Homo sapiens: one gene and its partners. The protein of the gene in region 3 interacts with the protein of the main gene of each other region in a pairwise test. Each region holds a gene or a part of one and is shown on either strand. Other genes may lie near its edges. The genes, in order: LMO7, LIMCH1 and LRIG3.

Region 1 (7,000 bases), on a different chromosome or scaffold from region 3:
AAGGAGTCCAGGCTACTGCAACAGCATAGGTGAAAGGTGATGGTGGATGTGGCAAGAGGTGGTCAGATTCTGGATCCATTTGAAGATATAGCCTGTTGGATTTCTTCACAGATTGGATGTGTGGTATGATGTTAAAAAAGAACAAGAGTCAATAATGACTTCAAATTTGGAAGCCTGAGCAACTGGCTGAACAATGATGCCATTTGCTAAGATAGAAACATTGGAGAGATGAGGAGATGATTAGGAAGGGGTGGGAAAGGGGTAGTACTAAGAGTTTTGCTTAGAACCCACTGAGCGTGACATGCTTATCAGACCTACAGTGGGAAATCTCAAGTAGTTACTAAAATTTAGGGACAAGGTCAGGGTCAGGAATGTAAATATGGAAGCAATCAGCGTGGAGAAGATATATGAACTTGATAACATCTGCTAGAAAGATACTGTAGGCAAAGAAAAGAAGACATGGAAGATGAGTCCTTGGATGTTCTAACATTCACTGATGAACAATAATTAGGAGGACTGAGCACAGAAAAATTAGAAACACCAAGTGAAATGGAAGAAAAACCTAGAGGGCAATGAAGGGTTTGAGAAGGAAGTCATCACCAACTCTATCTGATGCTTTTGATAGACTGACAATATTTTCTTCATAACACAGGGTAAATTCCAAATGCATTTGATACTGGTCCAGAGGCAATACGTTTGCTTATTGTCCCCTTCTTCATGTAAAATGAAAAACATTAAAACATTAAATCTCATGAGAAAAACTAATTCCACAATGAACTTCCTTTATTTATTTAATTTTATTTATTTATTTATTTTTGAGATAGGGTCTCGCTCTGTCATACAGGCTAGAGTGCAGTGGTACAATCATAGCTCACCGCAGCCTCAAACTTCTGGGTCAAGCCAGAATGAAAGTTTATAATGAGACTGGCAATGACCTCCCTTCCTTTGAATGTTATGAAATGGTGGTATAACAAAATAACTCAGATATTTCTTTCCCTGTTCACACATCTAGATCAAATTTCAATCTAGTCAAGGAGGCAAAAAAATTTTATCAGGGTCCCAGCTTTGGTACTAACAAGCCTAAAACACTAACTAAAAAGTATCCTAATCAAAAACATGACATGTATTTTTGAAGCACTATACAATAACCATCTGTACAATTTCTGGTATGCACGAACTACAGAAATGTAGGTCACATGAGAGAAGATGATACTTTTATAAATTATAGAAGAAACTACTTAGATATCTATTTCCTATTCTAGCTCAAAGTATAACTCAATGTTATATTAAAATGTTTCCTTTTTTAACACTTTAAATGGTTTATTGAACATTAACAATCACTAACATACATTCAAATATATAAACCTAAAGTCGGCAATTGCTCAACAGTGTCCATCTGGCTGGGCATGGTGGCTCACACCTGTAATCCCAACAGGTTGGGAGGCCAAGGTGGGAGGATCGCTTGAAGCCAGGAGTTCAAGGCCAGCTTAGGAAACAAAGCGAGACCTTGTCCCTACAACAAAATTTTTAAATTATCTGGGTGTGGTGGTGTGTGCCTATAGTCTCCCAGCTGTTCCAGAGGCTGAGGCAGGAAGACAGCTTGAGCACGGGAGTTCAAGGCTGCAGTGAGCTATGATCATACCACTGCACTCCAGCCTGGGCAACAGAGCAAGACCCTGTCTCTAAAAAAGAAAAAAATATATCTGTTGGCAATTCTGTAACTTACATATATTTGATGATCATGTACTAATACGGCACTAACATCACAAGAAATAACTTGTGCTGGTGAGCGGAAGTTGTATAGGATTTGTCATGTACAAAAAATAGCTAATCTTACAGCTTTAGGTGGAACAAGGACGGAGAGCCCATTCTTTTCTGATTCTTAATTCCTTAACAATGATGAACTACCTGGCCAGCGCCACTCCCAGGCAGCAGAGTATAATGACTAAGATGGCAGGCTGTGGGCATTCGGATCCTCAGCCAGCATTTACTACTTCTAGTGTTTCCTTGAGTAAATTATTTTACCTCTCACCCCTCTTTTCCCTCATTGGAAAAGAACATCCTCAGTAAGAATAGTCCATTATAAGATATGTGGGTATAATGCACTTGCCACATGTCATGCATGTGGTAGAAATTCAAGAATACTAGCTGCTTTTATTGTCATTTTTTCAGCTTCTCTTAAAAAAAAAACACTTCACTAGCAGGTAACTCGCTATTCAAGTCAGCTCATGTAGTGTAGGGCACTGCTATATTCATAGAAAGATCTTCAGAATACTGAGTCAAAAGTCTCACTGTGACCAGTTATTACCAGTTCTGCCCTCTGAATCCATACAAAAATTTCCTAATCTCTCCTACATGACAATCCCCATTATGCTTGAAGACAGACAGAGGGTCAGGTGCTGTATACCAACATAAAAATGCACTCAAGCACCAAACTGAGCATTCTGTACCCAGTAATGAGAACCAGTCTTTGAGCATACTACTGGGGTATTTCATAATCTTTGGAAAGGCTGTTCATGGGACTGTGCTGTAATTCACCAGAGTAGAACTTGCTATTGTCCATCTCTTTAAGCAAAGCCACAGATTGAATGTGTTAAACCTCTGTTTCAAAGTTGTGCATATATGACAGCTATTATCCCTATTAAGAGCTTTGACTACATCAAACATGTTTTCAAAGATATACAACCAATAATTATTTAATACCTTCTGAAACTAAAGAGTTAAGTACAGGTATGCATAATTCCTCATTTCCTCAGGCTCTAACACATTTTTGATAGTTAACAGGCTTAAGGAGATCTGGAAACATCAATTAAATAGGCCAACCTTTTTATTGGACACAAAACATTCATTCATTCAACAAGTATTTGGGAACATTCTGTCAGGAACTCTGGGGAACAGGAACAACATAAACAACTCAATCAGCAGATGCTAACTAGAAGAACGAGTTCACCTGCAAGGTGTATTTCTTCCAAACTAAAAGGATTGGGCAAATATGTTGATGTCACTTTGCTTTTCTTAACTAGCATTCACAAAGCTAGTGTGTTTCTATAACTCAAATGCTGGTATGTTGAGAACCAGTCTTAACAGGAAGAGGGAAGGTGAAGGAGTGTTTAGTCTCAACAGCAGTCCCTCACTACCCAAAGCACTCTCGGCATCCAGAGAGAAAGAGAGCTAGAGCAATGCACCGAAAGACAAGAACCAACACAGATTGAATAAATCGGCATACTCCCTGGGGTCCAATCCAGGACACCATTCCTCTTTCTCTAAGCCTAGGAGAAGTTTTAAGGATTTGTGCTTTACAAATGGCTTAAGAAACACCAAGGTTTCAAGGCTTCTTCGCAAGGGCCAATTGTGACTTCATTGAACCTTTTGTGGCTTAAGAGGAAATAGAACCCTCCTTTTCTCAGCTTCATCCTTCCTCACTGGAGGAAACCCAATGGGTCATTTGTTACATAAATGTTTAATATCACTAATAATCTGAGAAAAAATAGGACAACATGTCTTTCATCTGTTCATTTAGAGGGAAAATACAAATAACAATTTCTAATTTGGGCCAGAATGTGGAGAAAATGGTGCCCTCAACCCCTGCTCATTCTGCAAACTGCCACAAAGGTTTTAGAGGGTATCTTTATAATGTGTATCAAGAACCGTTTTTTTCACCCAGTGGGTCCACTTCTCTAACTGGTTCAAGAATACTCTATTTATTTATTTATTTATTTACTTTTTAAAGATAGAGTCTTACTCTGTCACCCAGGCTGGAGTGCAGTGGCACAGTTACGGCTCACCACAACCTCAACTGCCCAGACTCAGGCGATCCTCCCACCTCAGCCTCCCAAGCAGCCAAGAATGCAGGTGTGTGCCACCTTTTTTTTTTTTTTTTTTTTTTTGGTAGAGATGGGGTCTTGCTATGTTGACTAGGCTGGTCTTAAATTCCTGGCCTCAAGCCATCCTCCCTCCTTAGCCTCCCAAAGTGCTGGGATTACAGGCATGAGCCACCATGTCTGGCTGACACCCTGTTTTACTAAAGGTACAAGTTCTTTGTATTTTTCCTCACTTTATGAAAGAAGTCCATTTCTAGCTTTCAGTGCATCAGTACGTTGGAAGAATCCAGAATGATTGACACTGCACTGGAACCCTCCCAGTTCCTCAGGAAATACTTTGACATATCTGTTTACACTTCCTGGAGTCAGGCTATTCTAACGGCATTCCTGCCCTGGTTCCTATTTGTGTAAATCAGTTCCTTCCCAAGAGGACTTCATTAATTCCCTCATCTCTTGCCACCCCTCTCTTTTCTAGGATCCTTTCTTATTTCCCATATAAAGATGCTGTGTTCAAGAAATTATAAAACACTGCATAAAGAAAAAAATGGGGCCGGGTGTGGTGGCTCACGCCCTGTAATCCCAGCACTTTAGGAGGCCAAGGCTGGCAGATCACTTGAGGCCAGGAGTTTGAGACCAGCCTGAGCAATACAGTGAAACCCTGTCTCTACCAAAAAAAAAAAAAAGAAATACAAAAGTTAGCCAGGCATGGTGGTACACTCCCAGCTACTCGGGAGGCTGAGACAGGAGAATCACTTAAATCCAGGAGGCGAAGGTTGCAGTGAGCCAAGATCACAGCACTGCACTCCAGCCTGGGCAACAGAGTGAGTTCCTGTCTCAGAAAACAAAAGTAAAAGAAAAAGTGAGAGGAAAAAAGAAACAAATAGGCATTAAGACATTTCTTGGCCATTCAAACCTACCTTGAGAAATCCATAGTACTAGAAATCAAAGAGTGGATGCTTACCAAAGAAATGGAGATTAATGTGCTCTCTGGAAGGAACTCTCTTGAGTGATAAAAAGCATTCTGTATCTTGATTGGGTTCTGGTGACTTGGGCATATAGGTCTGACAAAACTCCTACAATGGTATACTTAAAATCAGTGCATTTCACTGCAGGTAAAACGTTACCTCAGTAAGGTACTTCAGTAAGAATAAATTACTCTGAGCAACTTCTGGAAGCTATGCTGTCTGCAACTTCAAGATTTCACACACGACAAGTTAAAAAAGGCCAAAATGTTCCAGCCTAGTGGGCAGATGGGTTAACCCCACTGCAGCCTCGGCTCAAATGCTGCCTTCTCTGTGTGCTTGCCCTGACTGACCAGGTGGACTCAGGCTGCCTCCTCAATGCCATCACGATGCACCGGATGAACTTCAGTACCTGATGGCACTGCTGGGTTTGTCTGCACATCTGCTTTTCATGGAGGCTGCCTCTCTTTGAAGGTCCAGGTAAGGGCTAAGAATTTGGTGACTGAATCTATAAACCCGTCAAGTTTCTGGCACACAGTAGGCACATAGTAGGTATTTTTGAGATGACTAAATGTAAGTCCCCATGAGGGAAATCATCAAGTGGACGGCAGTAGAGTAAGGTGACTCGGGAAGAGGGTTGAGGCAGAAGAGGAAATGCTAAGTAAATAAACAAGTACACACTGGCATGCAGATGAAGACACATCCTGTAGCAGGTTCCAACCAAACAACTGCAACCAATAAAGCTTAAGACACTGAAGCAAGTTTCTGCTGGAAGAAGAAATGAGTTCTGGTCCTTAAAATCCTATTTTTTAATGTTGTTAAAGCTATAACTTTATTTGTACTTTTATTCAACAAGCATTTAGCAGGCACCATGCCAAACACTCAAGCAATAAATAAGATACGATTCCTGCCCTCAGTTAGCTCATAGACTAATATAGAAAAACGAATAGAACCACACAATGCAAAAAGAGAGATTTATGTAAGACAGGAGAGAAAGGAATGGGTGGGGCTGGAGGTTTGGCGATTTTGGGAAGGCTTCACATAAAGGTTGATTTTAGCTCAAGTATGGAAGAATGAAGAGGTGTTCACTAGGTTACAAGGAATAACAAGTATTCCATTCATACGAAAACATGGAGGTGACAAAACTGCATTCTGTGCAAGGAGAAACACAAGCAATGGATTAGGGAGCATTTGTTGCTCTACCATCAGCATCCATTTAACTGGTACAACTACCAGGGGAGATTAAGAGGAAAAAACTGAGACCTACAGGATTTAAATAGCAGAGCCCAGGCCAGGTGCGGTGGCTCACACCTGTAATCACTATGGTAAATCTTTGTTAAAAATTGTATTACAAAGCAATTCTTATGCTAGCTGCTGCAGCTAGCATAAGAATTGCTTTGTAACACTACAATTTTTAACAAATATTTACCATAGTGTCTTAATATCTGTTGATTGAAATTATATATAATTACTAAAAATACTTCCATTAGCACCAAAGGCAAAAAAGTTAAAAGGTGGTGAACAGCACATCCCCGAAGGATAAAACTTGGGGCAGGTGGAGAAACAGACCAATTAGAAGTGAGGAAGGACTCATATTCTAGTGCCAGACTTGGCAATGAGCTCAGGTTGGCATCCCTTACAGGGTGACAGCAATACTGAAAAAATCCAATCCAGAGATAACAGGAAGGGCAGGTGAGCAGAAAGGTGGTGAATTAAGTTAGCCTGTTCTGCTCCAGCCATAAAAATTACTATTGTATTTGAACCTCAATCTAGAGAGCAACATTAACTTACAGACTAAAAAACTGACCAACCAATGCAAAGTGCTACATACCCCAGTTTCAATCTCATTAGTATTTTGTCTGTTTACCACATGGCTTTCGGATGACCCACAACAGAGAGACAAAGGCAACTATTAGGCATAGAAAATTAAAAGGTACTGCAGAAGAGGCCTAAAATTAGAGTCCAGGCTGTATTTTCCACCACTTCATCAGCCACTGCGTAGCCTTGCTAGAATCAAGCTTCTCCTCTGCCTTTGCCTTGAAACCATTACTTGGTTTTAAACCAGTGTTTAATCATAAACCAGCCCTGCTACATTATTAATGTATCAAACAGCCTTTCCAACTATGTAATAATCCAATATCATTATGTTGAGCGATCTTAAAGGGTAGCTTTCCTACATTTGCTTTGAATTGCAAAATTAGCATGAGTAGACACACC
Region 2 (8,280 bases), on a different chromosome or scaffold from region 3:
CACCTTACGTCTATTTTCACATTTAACCCTGCAAGCTTGTAAGAATAGGTGCTATTATCATCATTTTAGAGAGGAGGAAATGGAGGCACAGGGAGACTAAGAAACATGCCTGAGATTCCAAAGCATGGAAAAGACAGAGCTGGGATTATTTCCCACAGCTGCAACCCCAACCATCTGCCTCCAGAATCCTCACTCTTCATCATTATGCTATAACTACCTGTAGGATTGTGGTGAGGTTGTTGTAAGGATCAGATGAATTAATACATATAGAATCACCAGATCTAAAGACTCCAAAACAGTTTTTTTTCTGCCTTGACTGCCTTCCATGTGGAAACTGTAAATGAATCCCTACTATTCTATTGTCAGCAAATCTGTTCACAATGCAGAGGTTATAAATAGGAAGGAATGAAGTTTCTTACAGTTACCTTGTGAGGCAATTCTCTGAAATTTGGCAACTGACATGAAATGTGATTGCATATTTCACACTGCCATATTTAAATAAATGTGCAGCCCTGCTATGGATACTGTAGATAATATCTGGATGTTTCTGCCTTTGAGGCATTCCAGTTCCAACCAGACTTACATTGGATTGTGTGGGAATGCACACGATGTTATAGTGCCTGGGCCCATAGTCAGTTCTCTAAAGAGTAGAAATGACTAAACTCTGAAGAATAGAAATGGAATTATGCACAAGTCTGAAGAAGAATATTATATCTTTCTTTCCCTGCCAGGACCTGGCTCGTTGGAAGAGTCGTAGAAGAAGTGTTTCTCAGGACTTAATCAAGAAAGAGGAAGAAAGGAAAAAAATGGAGAAGTTACTGGCTGGAGAAGATGGGACAAGTGAACGAAGGAAAAGCATCAAAACCTACAGAGAAATTGTTCAAGAAAAGTGAGTTCTTTCTGTTGTCGTTTTTAATGTACAATATTATCTAGGTGTTTTTTTTTTCTAAAAATTATTGGCTGTCACAAAGGTTCTGATAGTAACATTTTATATTCCCTGTACTATCTCTTCAGTGCTACCTTCGTTTCTACCAAGGTCTTCTTTGCAATTTTCATTAGTTGACTTTGTTATTGCTTCTCCCATGTCCTTTAGAGAGCGGAGAGAGAGAGAGCTGCATGAAGCATATAAGAACGCTCGGTCCCAGGAGGAGGCAGAGGGGATCCTTCAACAGTACATTGAGAGGTTCACCATCAGTGAGGCTGTTCTCGAACGCTTGGAGATGCCAAAAATTCTGGAAAGAAGCCATTCAACAGAGCCAAATTTATCCTCCTTCCTGAATGACCCCAATCCCATGAAATACCTGCGGCAACAGTCACTGCCTCCACCCAAATTCACTGCCACTGTTGAAACCACCATTGCTCGTGCCAGTGTTCTGGATACCAGCATGTCAGCAGGCAGTGGGTCTCCAAGCAAAACTGTCACTCCCAAAGCAGTGCCTATGCTGACACCCAAGCCTTACTCCCAGCCCAAAAATTCTCAAGATGTTCTGAAGACCTTTAAGGTAGGACAAGTTCCTTAAGAGTAGAACCAAAGCTGAACTCCAGGGAGTGGATGGAAAGAAGCATCATGACTCAAGAAAATGTCATTCTTTTTACCATACAAAAGAAAAATGTGTTGACATTTACAGCTGTGAAAGTCATAGGTCTCTGGAGATTTGGTTTGTAAATGCTTCAGGGACAGCTGTTTCCCTCAATTGCTGTTGTTAATACAGATGGACTCCTATAAGACTGATAGTGGAGTCGTCTCCATGAGCAAGGTCTATTTTCTAGTTTGATATAATGGCATGATTTCTCTGTACTAGTGGTAAAAACCCTAATTTAGTAATACCCTAGTATTTCTAGGTATCAGGAGGTATGGCAGACTCCTCAAAACAAAATTTTATTTGCTTTTGGTTCAAATAGAAGTATATGCAGCTACCTCTCTTTTAGGAAGAAATTGGCATTCAGCATCCATTTGACATTGTAGCATCCAAAAAGATTTTACAATTGATAAAAATACAAGGAACACATGGGAACATGGGACATACTTGGTCCTCAAATGAGACAGGTTTTTTAAACAAGTGGAAAGAAACTGGGTTGTTTTGCTAATGAGTGTGTAAAATAGTGTTCCAGACTGAAGAACTTGTGGAAACCAAACATCTTTTCGCTTCCTCAAATTCAAGTACTTTCTCTTATATCAGGAGGAAGCACTCATCCTTTGTCTTAAGTTCTTTTGACTTGTAAAGAAAAATCAGTTCCCCTTGTCCTTGCACTCAATGAGTTTGTAATAAACAGAGGTGGAATGCATCACTTGGAGATGTGACCATTAGATAGAAAAGTTTTCGTAACTGATTGAGCAGTGTGATGCCACGTAGCTTCCTTGCTGTATTTCAAAGAGAACAAAACCACACTTTCTGACTTTTGCTGAAATAACTCTGAATGTATCTCAAAAATCTCTATCTTAGGCTTTGATAGAACAAAAATGTCCAGACTGTCTCATCTGGATCACATTGAGCTGTTTGTCCCCTTATAAGGGCAGGGGCCATGTCTCTGTCATTCATGGCTTCATCCTGAGAGCCTGGCACAGGTGCCCAGGACAGAGTAGGCACTCAGCAAGTGCTCCTTAAATAAATAAGTGAATTTTTCCTGAGAAGATGAGCTACTAATCATATGGACTCACACACACACAGATAGACACACACATGCTCATGTGTGCTCAGTGGTCCACCTAAGTGTTTCAGAAGCTTTCCTTCACCTAGGGCCTATGATAATGAATGGCTATGGTATTTCCTGAAGGAAGATTCTATGTTGAGGTGGCCCAGAATAGGATAGAGAATACATTTATTTAACTGGATTTCCAAGGCATCTGACCAAACATTCTAGATGTCCACTTTCCCTCCTTTATCTAAATAGTGCAAAGTGATCGTTTAAACAGAAGGATTAGCATAAATGATTTTATGGCAGAACTTCAGCTCTGAGAAAACTCTGTTCTTCACCATGGCGGCAAAGTGGAGCAAGGTGGTATGGCGGCCTCAGGAAGCACTTCCATGGAGGGGGTTATTAGAGAATTTGAGCAGAGGCCCTCTTAGAGCTGGAGATTACTCCTCATCACTCACTAGTGGGGGTCCCCTGCCTCATTGTAGGCCTCACTGGCTAGTATTTCTACTGATGGCCTACAGTTCCATTACTGAGTGCATGGACAGCAACTTTGGTCAAAGGTCAAAGTAACATGCAAATCAGACCGTTGTTACCAGCTAATAATGCCAGGACAGAAGCTAAGGGGTAGGGGTGTGTGTGTGTGTGTGTGTGTGTGTGTGTGTGTGTGTGTGTCTTCTTGGAGGGCAGGGCAGGGAATACAGGCCCCGTTGTTTTTCCAGTACAACAGAATTAAGAATAAAGGAAGATCAAGAGAAATAGTTTAAGGCAGTGTTTTTCAAACTGAAAGTTACCACCCGTTGCTAGGTTATAAAATCAGTTTAGTGGTTTGAAGCCAATATAAAAAAAAAAGAACTAGAATAGAATATAATAAAAAAACATAGTGTGTCACACAATGAAGGCAAAATTGCTTGGGGCAACTTCTGTTTCAGTTATATTTATGTGTGTGTGTGTGTGCTGAGTTGTGATTTAAATTTCTTTTTATGGGTAACAAATAATAGAGTAAAAAGACCAGTGGCTTAAGGTAAATAAACTATAACTAATATCCAGCCTTCCATTATTTCTTTTAAAAGATTTTAAAAGGCCTAATGAGGCTGGGCGAGGTGGCTCACACCTGTAATGCCAGCACTTTGGGAGGCCGAGGCAGGCAGATCACTTGAGACCAGGAGTTCGAGACCAGTCTGGACAACATGATGAAACCCTGTCTCTACTAAAAATACAAAAATTAACCAGCCATGTTGGCATACGCCTGTAATCCCATCTACTTGGGAGGCTGAGGCATGAGAATTGCTTGAACCAGGAAGGTGGAGGCTGCAGTGAGCTGAGATTACACCACTCCACTCCAGCCTGGGTGACAGAGTGAGACCCCGTCTCAAAAAATAAATAAATACATAAATAAGAGGCCTAATGATAATAATGGCTAATAGTTAAGCACTTAAAATGTGTCAGGTACTGTTCTAAATTCTGTACATTTGATAATCCATAAAATCTCCATAACAGCACTATGAGGAAGATACTGTTACTTTAAATTTTGCATCAGAGCACAGAGAATAGGAAACCTGTTGAAGATTCCATGCCTGTTAAATGGTAGAGCCAGGTTTCAATCAGGTCACCTAACTGCACAGCTCCCTCTCAAAACCACTCTACTTTCTGCCTCAAATTTCAAGACCGAGATTTCCAGATGCCTTTCAGTAAGCCAGGCTAACCGCCCTCTCTGGTTTCCCTTTCTTGCTCCAACTGCCTCCCCTCGATGTGAGTGCAAAACAAAAATATTTTAATGTGCATGGTCTTTTTTTCTTTAAAAAATGGAGGTTATAAAAGTAACTAGAAATAGAGATTCACTGTAACAGAGCATAGTCTCAGATCCCTTGCCCTCTGCCTTAGCTTCAAAAAAAGTATCTGTTTCCCCTGCTACCACCATGGGATAAGCTGTAAAATATTCCTGATCTGTGGTAAGTTCCGCCTCATTTATATGCTATCCAGAAAAACAGTCAAGGTTGTGGAATAGCAATCAGAACTGAAGTGAAACAGTATTGGAACCCCAATATGTGGCATGTATTTGTACTTAAGATTCTTCGGTTTTCTGTACTTTAAAATAAAAGCAGACCATAAATGAGGTGAACATGAAATGGAATCTATAGTGAAGTGGCCCAAGCAGGCCAACTACCTTTTAAGGAGGCCCTCAAAGATAGCATTTATAGAAGCCCTAACTCATAGATCCCATCAGAACATTTAAGAGACCTCTTCCTTCATTGGACTCTGGTTATTAAATGATGATCTTTTGAGGTAATTCTGAACGTGTCGTTTTGTTACAGTCTTTGATTGGGGTATATATAGCATGTTTTTTGTTCATTCTGGCTTTTATAGGTAGACGGGAAAGTCAGTGTGAATGGAGAGACGGTTCATAGAGAGGAGGAGAAGGAAAGAGAGTGTCCCACGGTGGCACCTGCCCACTCCTTAACCAAATCCCAGATGTTTGAAGGTGTGGCCAGAGTGCACGGGTCTCCACTGGAGCTGAAACAAGACAACGGTAGCATCGAGATCAACATAAAGAAGCCAAACTCTGTTCCCCAAGAGCTCGCAGTAAGAACCAAACATTTCCCCGCCTCCCTTTGGGATAATTCCATGGTGAAAGAATCTGTTTTTAAAAATAAGTAGGTCATGATAATGACCATTTCTTTCTATGTTGGCGTATTAGTTTGCTAGGGCTGCTGTAAGTACCACAAACTCAGTGGCTTAAACAACAGAAACTGTCTCACAGTCCTGGTAGCTAGAAGTCCAAAACCAAGGTGTTGGCAGGGTTGGCTCCCTCCATTGGTCATGAGAGAGCATCTGTTCCAGGTCTCTCTCCTAGCCTCTGGTGGCTGCTGGCAATCTTGATGTTCCTGGGCTTATGGATGTGTCATCCCCCTCTCTGCCTTTGTCTTCACTGGTGTTCTCCCTGTGGATGTGTCTGTATTCAGATTTCCCTATTTTATTTTATTTTATTTTATTTTTCGAGATGGAAATTCGCTCTTTTTGCCTAGGCTGGAGTGTAATGGTGCGATCTTGGCTCACTGCAACCTCTGCCTCCAGGCTTCAAGCAATTCTCCTGCCTCATCCTCCCAAGTAACTGGGACTACAGGCATGCACAAGTGCACCCAGCTAATTTTGTATTTTTAGTAGAGACAGGTTTCACCATGTTGGCCAGGCTGGTCTTGAGCTCCTGACCTCAAGTGATCCACCCACCTCAGCCTCCCAAAAGTGCTGGGATTACAGGCATGAGCTACCACACCCAGCCTAATTTCCCCTTTTTAGAAGAACACCAGTCATACTGAGTAGGTCCACCCTTCTCCCTTGTGACCTCATCTTAACTAATCACATCTGCAGCAGCCCTATTTCCAAAGGTCACTTTCTGAGTAGTAAGGGTTAGGACTTCAATAATATGAATTTTGGGAGACACAATTCAACCTGTATCATTGGTATAATGGAAGGTATTACAATTTATGAGCCAGAAATTACTTTTTCTTGTCTCACTATTGGTGTCCAGTGTTATAGAAGAATAAGTAAATCTTTAAAATACCTTTTCCCCCCCTGTTTATTTAGGACCTCATTAGACTTGTTAATGCCATTTGAAAATAACTGGTGCTATCAGAATCTAGCTTTCCATCCCCGGCGATGTATATATAAAAGGGCCTTTTTCTTATTAGTTAAAGAAACAAAAATTCATTTAAAAGCTGAAAGTAATGTAAAGCATCAGAGTACTATTGAATGGCAAAGCTAAAAAATGTATGCTAATTCAGGTACTGCAGAAAAGTGAACTCAAAATAACATGATATTTGTTTCTTTGGAGTAGAAGACATCATTGGGAAAATTGCACTTTCTTCCATCTCTCACCAGAAAGACTCATGCTGGTTTCACTAATCTAACCGAAACTGTCACTACACAGATGCAGCCCTGCTTTCGGGGTACGGGCTGGACTCTGTTCAACCTCATTTGTACTCACCAGAGGCTGAGTTTCTGCTGTTCTAATTTATAGCATTTGGGTTTATATTATAGTTACAAGAAGGGAAAAACTATCAAGATATTTTCCCCCAGGACCTAGAAAGGTTTGGTGTGAAAGGAAACTTCTTCCGGCACCAAGGGAGCTGAGCGTTGTGTGACCCAGCTAGCTAAAACCCACCTAGAAGGCTGGATATCATTATTTTTTTCCTTTATGATTAGTCTTTTGAAGACTAAAATTATTTTTTTTTTCAGAGGAGTTGAGAAGATATAATTCTTCCACGCAGTACCCAAGTGCTCTGTGAAAGAGATTCAAATGGGAGTAGACCAAAATCATTTTCTCACCATGGTAACACGTTTCCTAGTCTCTAGGAGCAGAGTTTTGTGATCCAGGCCACTGCGGAGTCTCTCCTGAACTTGGACTTCCTGGACTTCCATTTTACTTGTCATTTGCATACGTCTTACCTCTGCTAGAGATTTCTTGCAGATGATCACGAGACAGAATATTGAGTTCTGCTAGCAGTGTGAGAACTTAACTGATAGAGTAAACATTAACTTATGCTGTTAAAATTAAACTAGAAGACCCCAAATTAATTAGACATAGGGGTGGCATTGCTTTTCAGGGACAATTAATAATTCTGTTCTTATTTCTCTTTTGCCATTTTTCATGATGATCGTTTTCTAAATTCCCTTCATTAAAAAGATTTCACATTGATTACATATCCCCCAAAGTAACTTGTTTTAAGAGAAGCAAAATTACACGATCTGAAAGAAACTATGCTATTTCAAAAGTTTATACATGATCACATGGAGAAGGATGGCCTTCAGGACTTTCTTCCTAGAAACCAGCCTGATCCTGGTTGCCTAAGGATGCAGGTCTAAACTCAGAAAAGCCTGGGAGTCTTTTCCTTTTGTGTATTTCTTCCTTGGAGAAATTGCCTAGTTCAGAGTAATTTCTAGGTCAGTGAACCCTAATGTTTCTGAACAGGTAGTAGTATTTATGGACCCTGTCTATAGTACTTTAGGCTTTTGAATCAACTATGGCAGGGGGTATTGCATTACTTTCTGTGTGGGAAAATCTCTGTATATATCTGTCAGACTATAAGCTAAGTTGTTAGCTGTACTACATAGGACTGTGGCTCATTACTCAAATACTCATCATACTCACATGCAACTTAGGATACCACAAGTTTTCCATTCAGAGTGTGTTATCCCAAGAGTCATTTTAAAAGAATCACTTCTCCAGTAAACCTACTCCCCATTTTACTTCTTTGTGCATGATTCCAAGCAAAGCATTTCTTGACTGTGTTACAGCCGGTATACTCCTGTTAAAAAAAAAAAAAAAGGAATTAATTGGTCATGGCAAAATATGGTGACCAGCTTAGAACAGGAGGCTGCACTTCAGGGCCTCCCAGAGACTGACACCAGCTTGGACTTCATTTTCTGTTTCTAATTCACTTGCCTGATTCTGTGGGGCTGTCAAAAGATTAGTGTTCTTCTTTTTAAATAGTGTCTTTCTTCCAAAAACTGCATTCCCAACAGATACACTCTCTACAGAGGAGTAGCTTCACCCACCACTAAAATGTCACAATTCCTTTAGGGTGAGCTAGAACTGTTCAAAGGGCACAGCAGCAGCAGTAGGCAGGAGCATGAATTCAGGAATGG
Region 3 (8,979 bases):
CCACTGGGGCCTGCAGAGCTGCTAATTCAGCACAAATCTGGAAAGCTGAAAAACAAAAAGCCAGGCTATAGCTGTTTTAAGACACTGATCCAAAGTGACTCATAAATCAGCCTGCTATATTCAAGTTTTAGTCTGGAAAATACAGAAAAACAGCTGTGAAAACCATAAGGACTATTACCCCCACCCCACCCCCAACTGTGGTCCGGACCATAAGATTTATAACAGGTCAACACTAAAGAAGTCACACCAGCAGAAACTACCTTTGGGACTTTCGCCTGGGTCCTGTTGAGAACTCAAACATTTCTACATAAGACAAATAATTCTGAAATGCCAGTGAGAATTTAATAATACTGGAAGTTCTCATTGGCAATTTAGCAACTTTTCCGTCTCTGGGCTAAATAACATTCTAACAAGCATTCCTCTTTAGGTTGAGAACTGTTTAAGCGCAAACTCTTGACATAAACTCTAGCTTGCCTTTAATGGCAGTTGTGAGCAAGGCTTGGCGTAGTTACTGGGTTGTTTTTTTTTAGACAAAGTCTCGCTCACATAGTTACTCTTTAAGAGCCACTTTCATTAAAGCATTAGAGGTTATTTTCTAAAAGGAGTACTGATACAGTATTATTATTTTACAGCTCAAACTATTCGACTTTTCACACATGGGACTCCTATAGTAATAAATCACAACCAAATAAAGTGGAAAAAATACATACACACGTAATTTTTCTTAAACTTGCAAATTCAACAAATGAAACAAAAGATAGACACTGAACTTTTTCTGAAAAGTGCTTTCATAAGCCAGTCCAAAGACAAACTCCTACTATTTTGATTACCCAAGGAAAGGGAAGGTAAGATATGGGGAACAAAAACATGCATTTTTCTATTTATATCTGAACTCGGAAATCATCTCCTTAAGACGATTTTTCTAATTACGAAAAACTTTAGTAGCTTTTTAGACCACCTATTCTAAAATACCAAATAACAGAGAAAGTAAAACTCAATTCCACGTGTTTTTCTGCTCCTTTCAAAAGTGGAAAGAGGAGACCTCTAGAGCTTTAGGTACAAACAAAAGAAATATTTACAATAAAGAATCCAGACCACATGGTTTGGTGACACCTACAAAGATGGTTAAAAGTCACAGAAGTACAGGAATGACAGAGCTGTCCAATAAGTGATCACAGCAGGGTTCCTGACAACAGACTGAGTGCTTATTTATACAAGTGGAACTTATTTTCACATACATTTAAGGAATGTGGGCTAGTATTGAGACAATTTACTGCTGGTGGAAATGTAATTAAAGACTGTGCTAACCAAATAAACTCTAATTTGTTTTTAGTGTGCCACCAAATTATCTGCAAAACAAAATCCTAATTAGGTCAGCTACTTTTAAGACAATGTTTAAATAGGTATCGAACCCCTTTTGGTTCAACTCAACTTCTGATCAAGGGCAACACAGATTTTTTTTCTAAACATCTAAATCCAGGAAAAAAGAAAAAAAGTACTGCACACTAGCATGATCACAATAGACAACTTGACATTGAAAAACTATCGAATACAAGTTAGATGCCGTGAATAATCTAAGCATATCTAAATACACTCCAGGAAGCACTGTATTCATTTTCTCTTTCTCATCCCTCTATTATTCCTAAGTGTTCACCTCCAGTCATTTACATGTTCAGTTCCATATGTTGTCAATAGAGCCATTCACTCATGAATAAGGCAGCATGACCTCCACAAGAGGCAATTTAACAGAATTAGCCACAACTAATTGAAAGTCTCCCTGCTTTCGGTTAAAGACCTTATCTCCTCTTCCAATTGCAATAAAAACTACTAAATAAAACGTCCCAAGAAATTAAATATCAATCCAATACTAATTCTACTTTATTAAACTAAGGCTTATTAAAAACACAAGGAATATACTTTCTGATGGCCAACAATTCTACATTCACAAAAGTTATTTAGATTAGCACAATAATTTTAAAATATAAATTCTTAAACACCTGACCAAACCTCCTACCACATTAGGGCATTGGAATAGTTCACTAGAATTGTTTTAAAAACTTAAAATTTTCATTGCAATTCTGCTAAGTCAAAATATAAGATTACGTATGAAGTGCACTTTTATTTTAAACAGAACAACTACTTTAAAAAATACAAATTTTGATTGTTTACTTTTTACAGCACTCCAATTTTAAAACTGGGACTGAGGAAGAAAAGAGATGACATTTGGAAAAGATCAGCATTTCCAACTAAATTACATTTTCTTCCTTGTTCTTCACGCAGTTGGCAGTGATTTCAGGTTTTCAGACTTCGCAGCTAAAAATCCAAAAACTTGCATAAGAGCTCCCTGCGCTCTCCCCTAAACCGTCTGGGCGTTCTGAGGAGCTACAGAAATCACGCCCTTGATTCTGGATAATCGAGTTCCGCCCTTTCCATAGCTACCGACCAGTCTTTACAATCTGGTTGAGGAGTGGGAACTTACGGTCTGCTAATGTGAAAAAGCAAGCAGAGGGAGAACAACAGAAGTACGTCCACCATAACTTGGAGAATGACCGAATTCTGTTGAGGGGGCTTCCCAAATGAAAAGCCTGACTTCAGTTACTGGGTGGGAACAGGAAAAGGAGTCTGACGCAGCTAGAAACTAAAACTGAACCAGACTCATAACTCAGCGAGAACTGCAAACTCCTGATGTGTGCAGGTTGCCGCTTATCTCCCCTGGGCCTGGCAGGAGCAAGCATTTGAACCCCTTGGCTAGCTTAGGGCGCAGGACTTCATCCCCAATCTCTGGCGTCGTTACTGGCCCCCAACCCTGGTCTACCTGCAGCCAGTTAGGACGCGCCAAGAGCCCACCTGCGCCGCCCGCAAAGCACGTGGGAGGGAAACTGAGGCCCGGACAGTTCTTTTTCCACGCCCACGGAGCGCCGATCGCGGCCTGGGCCAGAAGGAGCTATACGGCAAAAAGGGGACTGCACGCCGAACCCCATTCCCCGCCGGCTCCTGTTTTCTCGAATCTCCAGCGGCCCGGGCCCCCTCCCCCCGCGGGAAGAATACTTACAGCCGAGCGACCCAGGACGGGAGTGGCTCGGGAAGACGCGCTAGCCGCTTACGACTGCAGTCCAGCAGGTCCCCGAGGCAGCGGCAGGTAGTGGGGCATGGGCGCTCGGCGGCTACCCCAGAGGGCTGCCCGAGTTCCCCGCGACCGCCGCTGTCTGACCGGCCAGCGCGCCCCAGCACCGCGCACAGCAGCAGCCCCAACCCCGCGGCGCGCGCACGGAGGCTCGGCGCGCTCATCGCGGTCCAGCGGCCTAGGTCTCTACCCGAAGCTCCCAGCCGGCGCGCGCTCGGGGCCCGGCACAAACTTCCAGCCGAGGGTGCACGCCCGCCCTCGCGGTCGCGTGCGCGCTCCTCCCTCGCGCTGCCCGGTCAATTCCTTCTTTTACTCCCGGCGGCGAAGCCCTTTCATGCCCCCAAACAGCAGGAGGGAAACCGAAAAGAACTGCCAACTGCAACAGAGTTGCAGCTTGAGCAGCGTCGGCTCGCCGAAGCCCCTTCTTGTCTGCAAAAGAAACTTTTTCGCCTCCACCCCGCGGCACTGCGCCAAGTCCCCGCGCGGCGGAGTAGCAAGGCGGGCGGGTAGAGGCCGACGCGCGCCCATTGGCCGACTCGGCTGCGGGCGTCCCCGTGGCCACGTGACAATAACACCGCTCCAGCCGGGGGCCTACGCGCGGGAGAAAGTGGAGCTGAGATTGTAGGAAATTCAGAGTTATATTTTCCAGCCTCTCCAGCCAGAAGTCTCCACTACGTCGTGGGAAACATATATCAAATGGAGTTGAAAGGCAAAAGGAAGTGAGCAAATACTGGGCTAGTTCTCGGAGTTGGAGGTATTTAGGAGAACTTCAGGGAAGTAAAGTTTAATTAGCAGTGTTTTCAGGAAACTTTTCAATTCCAAATTAAAGACACTGATAAATTATCCTACCATCCACAGATGAAAGAGTGGTTTCAATGAAAACAGCTCTTTCAACGTTAATGCTGGTGGGTGTTCCCCCATACATCGGCTTCAAAAGTAAAAACAATAATAAAACGTAAAACTCGTGGTTTTGGAAAGTGTATATTGAATTACAAATAGCCAGCCTTCGTGCACTGGATAAAGCTGGGCGGGGTGGGGGATGGGAGATGACCTTCTAATAGACCTCGATGGCAATCATAGATTCCTGGTAATAGTAATAATAAAAGTAGTCACAGTGACATTTCAAAGTAAAATGAAAACTAAGACCTTGGAGGAAAAAATTAGTATATGCACCTTGGTCCACTTGCGCTTTGAGTAATGACACATGTTGATTGAGAATGCTACCAGGGTAAAAGTACCTCCCGGCCTCCTCAGCTGGGGGAGTGGATGTTTGGGGCTGGATTCAGGCTACAGGACTTCCCAGTGAAGTTTGTTCCTTAACTTACAGGTGATCAGCGCCACAAGATGTTGAAACTAATGGAGACCGCAGAGATCATGTGCTAAGGGGCCTTCCTCCTCTGGGTAAGGAAATAGACCTAGAGAACGTAACTAATGTGTTTGTTGCAAAAAAAATAAAAATAAAAGCAAGACAGAAAACATGAACAAACCAAAAAACAAACCCTGGAAGCTTAAAGTAAGTTTTCACTTCTATACATTGTTTATTGCATGCTGTCTGCCCAAGCTTGTCTGTCCTTGGAGTTGCGTAAACTGCTCATGATTGAGGAGTGGAGATAGCTTGTGGAGTTGAGACTTTAACCCTGACTCTAAGGCCCATTGATTTTTCACTGTAGCAAATCACTCCCACTTACGGGGGAAGGAAAAGACTCACTTTGAAGTTAACACACCCTATTTTAGATATGGTATCCCATTTTCTTATTTCCAGCTACCATTAACAACAACGCTACTACCTTTTTGGATGATGTATAATTATAATTAGAAAATATCTATAATGATGGCACCTTGGTTTTGAATTTATGATTTTGTCTGCTTGGGAGTAGACAAAACACACTACAGTCATAGTAAGGATTTTCCAGCTCAGTATCCCCCATCTATTTTTATTTATTTTTTTTATTTTTTTATTTTTGAGATGGAGACACTCCAGTCTGTCACCCAGGCTGGAGTGGGGTGCAGTGATGCGATGTCGGCTCGCTGCAACCTCTACCCCCTGGGTTCAAGCAATTATCCTGCTTCAGCCTCCCAAGTAGCTGGGATTACAGGTGCCCACCACCACACCCGGCTAATTTTTTTGTATTTTTAGTGGAGACAGGGTTTCACCATGTTGGCCAAGCTGGTTTCTAACTCCTGACCTCAGGCTATCCGCCCGCTTTGGCCTCCCAAAGTGTTGGGATTACAGGCGTGAGCCACCACACCCGGCCCCCCATCTATTTCATACAAGGAAAATTAGGTATAATTCATTGAAGTTTTTAAAAAGAAGAAAGATTCCATTGTACACATGCCATTATGCATAAGCAAGGTAACATCAGTATGGAGGCTTGCTCTTGAGACATGAGACATATGACAGGGATATAAATGTGCTACCATTTTGGGGAGTTTTGGCTCATTTCCTTTTCTCATTCTTTATTCTCCTTGTATAATTTCATCTTCTTCCATGAATTCCATTTACATTTACATGCTGACATATACAACATCCATATTTCAGCCCAGGTCTTTTTCCTAAACTCGAAATCCATATGTGCAATTACCCACAGGTCATTAAAAATTGGATGTTCAAATGTAACATGTCTAGAATTAAATTTCACCACCCTTGAAACTGACTTGTTTCCTCCTGAATTCACTGTCTTAAAGAGTGGATACTTCCCTCCATCCAGATGAATGCCCCAGAAACCTGAAAGTCACCTTAACATTACTTCATTCTCACCACCACCACCACCACCACCAGAGTCAATCAATTAGCAAGTCATGTTAAAGCTAGCTCCTAAATGTATCTTCTCTCTGTAGAAATTATGCAAATCCAGACCACCAGCAGCTCTTGCCACCTATCAGGCATTCCACTGCTTTCTCCTCAGGGCAGTTAAGTGATATCTCTGAAGGTCAAATCTGAGCCTGTGACTCAACTGACCAGTTCTTTTCTTGGGTTCCTAGTGTCTTGAGAATAAGGTTCAAATTCTTTAGAGTGACTTATACAGTTTTGTTTGTTTGTTTTGGCATTGAGCCTCTATTTATCTCTTTAATTCATTGTCTTTCATCATTTTTCTCCTACTCTAGGAGCTACTTGCAATTCTCTTCCCAGCTGTACTCTTGCCTTCAGCCCTCTTGCAAATGGTTCTTCTGTCCAAATCATTCTCTGCTCCTTCTTCTGCCTGGTTGATGGCATTCCTTCTTTGGCAAACACTTCCCTGAGTCAGGTTTAACTATCTATACCTCCAGTATACTTCCAGCACATCAGTATTGACTGGAATGTAATAGACCATTTTCACTCTAACCCCCAGGTAATACTACAGAATTTTCCGATAACCATGTATTCCTTATCGCCTTTAAGGGTTTTACCAGCTATTGTGAAGTTAAATTACCTAAGTTTTCAGTACCCCAGTTTCTCAGTCTGTAAATTGGGAATACAATAAAAAACGATCTTATCTGGCTGGCTTCCATTTATCAGTTACTGGATTAGCAGTCACTCTGTTCTCTCTGTACAACCTGACTGATGCCTATGACCAGCTGAAATCTAGAAACTACCAGCCTCTCCTTAGAACAGCCTTTGCATATTTGCTCCTACCTGTCAGGTGCTGATCCACAGTAGTTACAGACTTGTTTATATATATTATTAATGTTACACAATATTGTGTAAACCAAATACAAGTGCAACAAGAAAATACCTTTATTTCTATGATAATGAATTTGAAGGTTGGGAAAGATTCTTTAAAGGTAATCGATAAAACAATGCTATCCAATTAGATGAAGATAAGACAGTTGTAAATATGGGAGGAGGAGATTACAAATATCTAGGAGATTTTTTTGGAAAGGTTACTTTGCAAGTAAGATCTTGTTCCACTTTAATTGTATTTGGGAATTAATCAACAGAGGACGTTTTATGGGTGTGGCTTAAGCTTACTCAGAACTTAATGGGATCATTGAGAGAGTAAAAGAGGATGACATGGAAAGAATACAGCGCACATTAAAAATCACTGTTCTACATTTCGATATGTGCTTAACCATGTGGTCAATACAAAGGGGAACTAGTCCTACATGAAAACTTAATTTTTTTATTTTTATTTTTTTGAGACAGGGTCTCACTCTGTCACCTAGGCTGAAATGCAGTGGCGGGATATTGGCTCACTGCAGCCTCAACTTCCTGGGCTCAGGCGATCCTCCCACTTCAGCCTCCTGAATAGCTGGGACCACAGGCGCATGCCACCATACCAGTCTAATTTTTGTATTTTTAATATATGTATATATAGATATATATATATATAGAGAGAGAGAGATGGCGTTTAACCATGTTGTCCAGTCTGGTCTCGAACTCCTGGGCTCAAGAAATCCATCTACTCGTTTCGGCATCCCAAAGTGCTGGAATTACAGGCATGAGCCACCTGCCTGGCTGAAACTTTACATCAATGTAATATTTTCACAGGCTTCTCAAACCTTTCATGAACCACAGGGCAGAGAGAACTTCCACTGGGTATCCATCTGGGCAGATGAGAACTAATATCTTTTGAGGTCCCTTACAGCTCTGTTCTGATTCCTTTACAGTATATAGAAAATAGGCGTGAAGGCAGAGTGACAGCAAAGATAGTTGTAATAGAGGAAGAAGAGGTACATAAAATTCTGTTTAATCTCCCAAAATGTATCAGGGAATAACAGTGACCTAGAAACAGGATTAATGTATCACTGAATTCTCTGATACTCTTATGATGTCATTTTCTTGTATACACACACACACACACACACACACACACACACAGAGGACACAGTGCTATCAAATGTTGAATCTCAGTTTTTGTGGATAATGGCTTACAAATAAGAATTTAGTATGAGAAAGTCAAATTCATTTTGACCAGAGGTCTTTTAACATTTGAAATAAAATGAGATAAGATGTTGGATTTCTCTACTCCTTCAGAGGTTTACACTGGTTAACCAGGTAGTTGGAAGTTAGCTTTCCATTGGAAATTGCTGAGATCACACCAGACAGTTTCTCGTTTCCAGCTGTGTCCCAGTGAATGGCAAGTTTCATCCATTTTCAAAAGGGTCTCCTACCACCCATTTTGTGGTGAGCATAACCCAATCCCAGTGCTCTTTTTAGTTTTCCTGGTCTTTTTTCTTTCTCTGGCAAGTGTGAGACTTTCTTATCTTGAGTGCTGGCAAGGCCAGTGACTCACCGATAAAAAGTAATAGAGGTGCTAAACTGTCAGTTTTAACATCCAAGGACAAGAATGAAAGCTAAACACTCAGTACTTGCTTTATCATTACAATGAATGACACAGTTTGTGTAAGTGGGAGCTGTGAAAAGGGAAAAGAGATAAGGCAAAGGAGGAAGAAAAGCACAAAAATCCCCAGATAATGATGCCAAAAGCAAATGTTGCTGTACTTTGTAACTTAACCATATCTTTTCCCATTCATTAAGGCATTTTAGAAGAAATAGATAACCTTCCTTTCTCTCTCTCTCTCTCACACACACATACAAACACACAAAATGCACAGCTTCACTTAGAGAGCAGATTACTTTACACAACCCCTGCTATGAACATGTCTTAACTTTCAGAAAATATTTAGAAAAATAAAGATAGCCACCCATCTGTTTTTCTCAAGTTGGCCAACTGTGTGATATTATTTGAATTGAAAACAAACAGTGTTATCTCAACTGCAAATTAATATATGCTATTTTGTATTTTACTCATTTCCCATGTCACCGTCTGGGAATAATGTGAGCTCTGAGGAAAACTCATACTGTAGACAACACTGGATATCCTGGAAATCATTTTGGAGCTGCTGGGAGTCTGGAGATGGGGTAGGGAATGGGA

What was found.
Region 1: the proteins of LRIG3 (region 3) and LMO7 interact in binary tests that used the Homo sapiens proteins (3 or more experiments, as listed by UniProt).
Region 2: the proteins of LRIG3 (region 3) and LIMCH1 interact in binary tests that used the Homo sapiens proteins (3 or more experiments, as listed by UniProt).

What each region holds. Positions count from the first base shown.
Region 1 is NC_000013.11:75,639,330-75,646,329, reverse strand, and holds part of LMO7 (LIM domain only protein 7), read right to left. Parts: intron 1-7,000.
Region 2 is NC_000004.12:41,645,392-41,653,671, forward strand, and holds part of LIMCH1 (LIM and calponin homology domains-containing protein 1), read left to right. Parts: intron 1-731; coding exon 732-889; intron 890-1,093; coding exon 1,094-1,502; intron 1,503-5,001; coding exon 5,002-5,217; intron 5,218-8,280.
Region 3 is NC_000012.12:58,916,948-58,925,926, forward strand, and holds the start of LRIG3 (leucine-rich repeats and immunoglobulin-like domains protein 3 isoform 2 precursor), read right to left. Parts: upstream 3,558-8,979; 5' UTR 3,289-3,557; coding exon 3,053-3,288; intron 2,559-3,052; exon of another isoform or gene 2,536-2,558; coding exon of another isoform or gene 2,480-2,535; intron 1-2,479. UniProt on the Homo sapiens protein: May play a role in craniofacial and inner ear morphogenesis during embryonic development. May act within the otic vesicle epithelium to control formation of the lateral semicircular canal in the inner ear, possibly by restricting the expression of NTN1.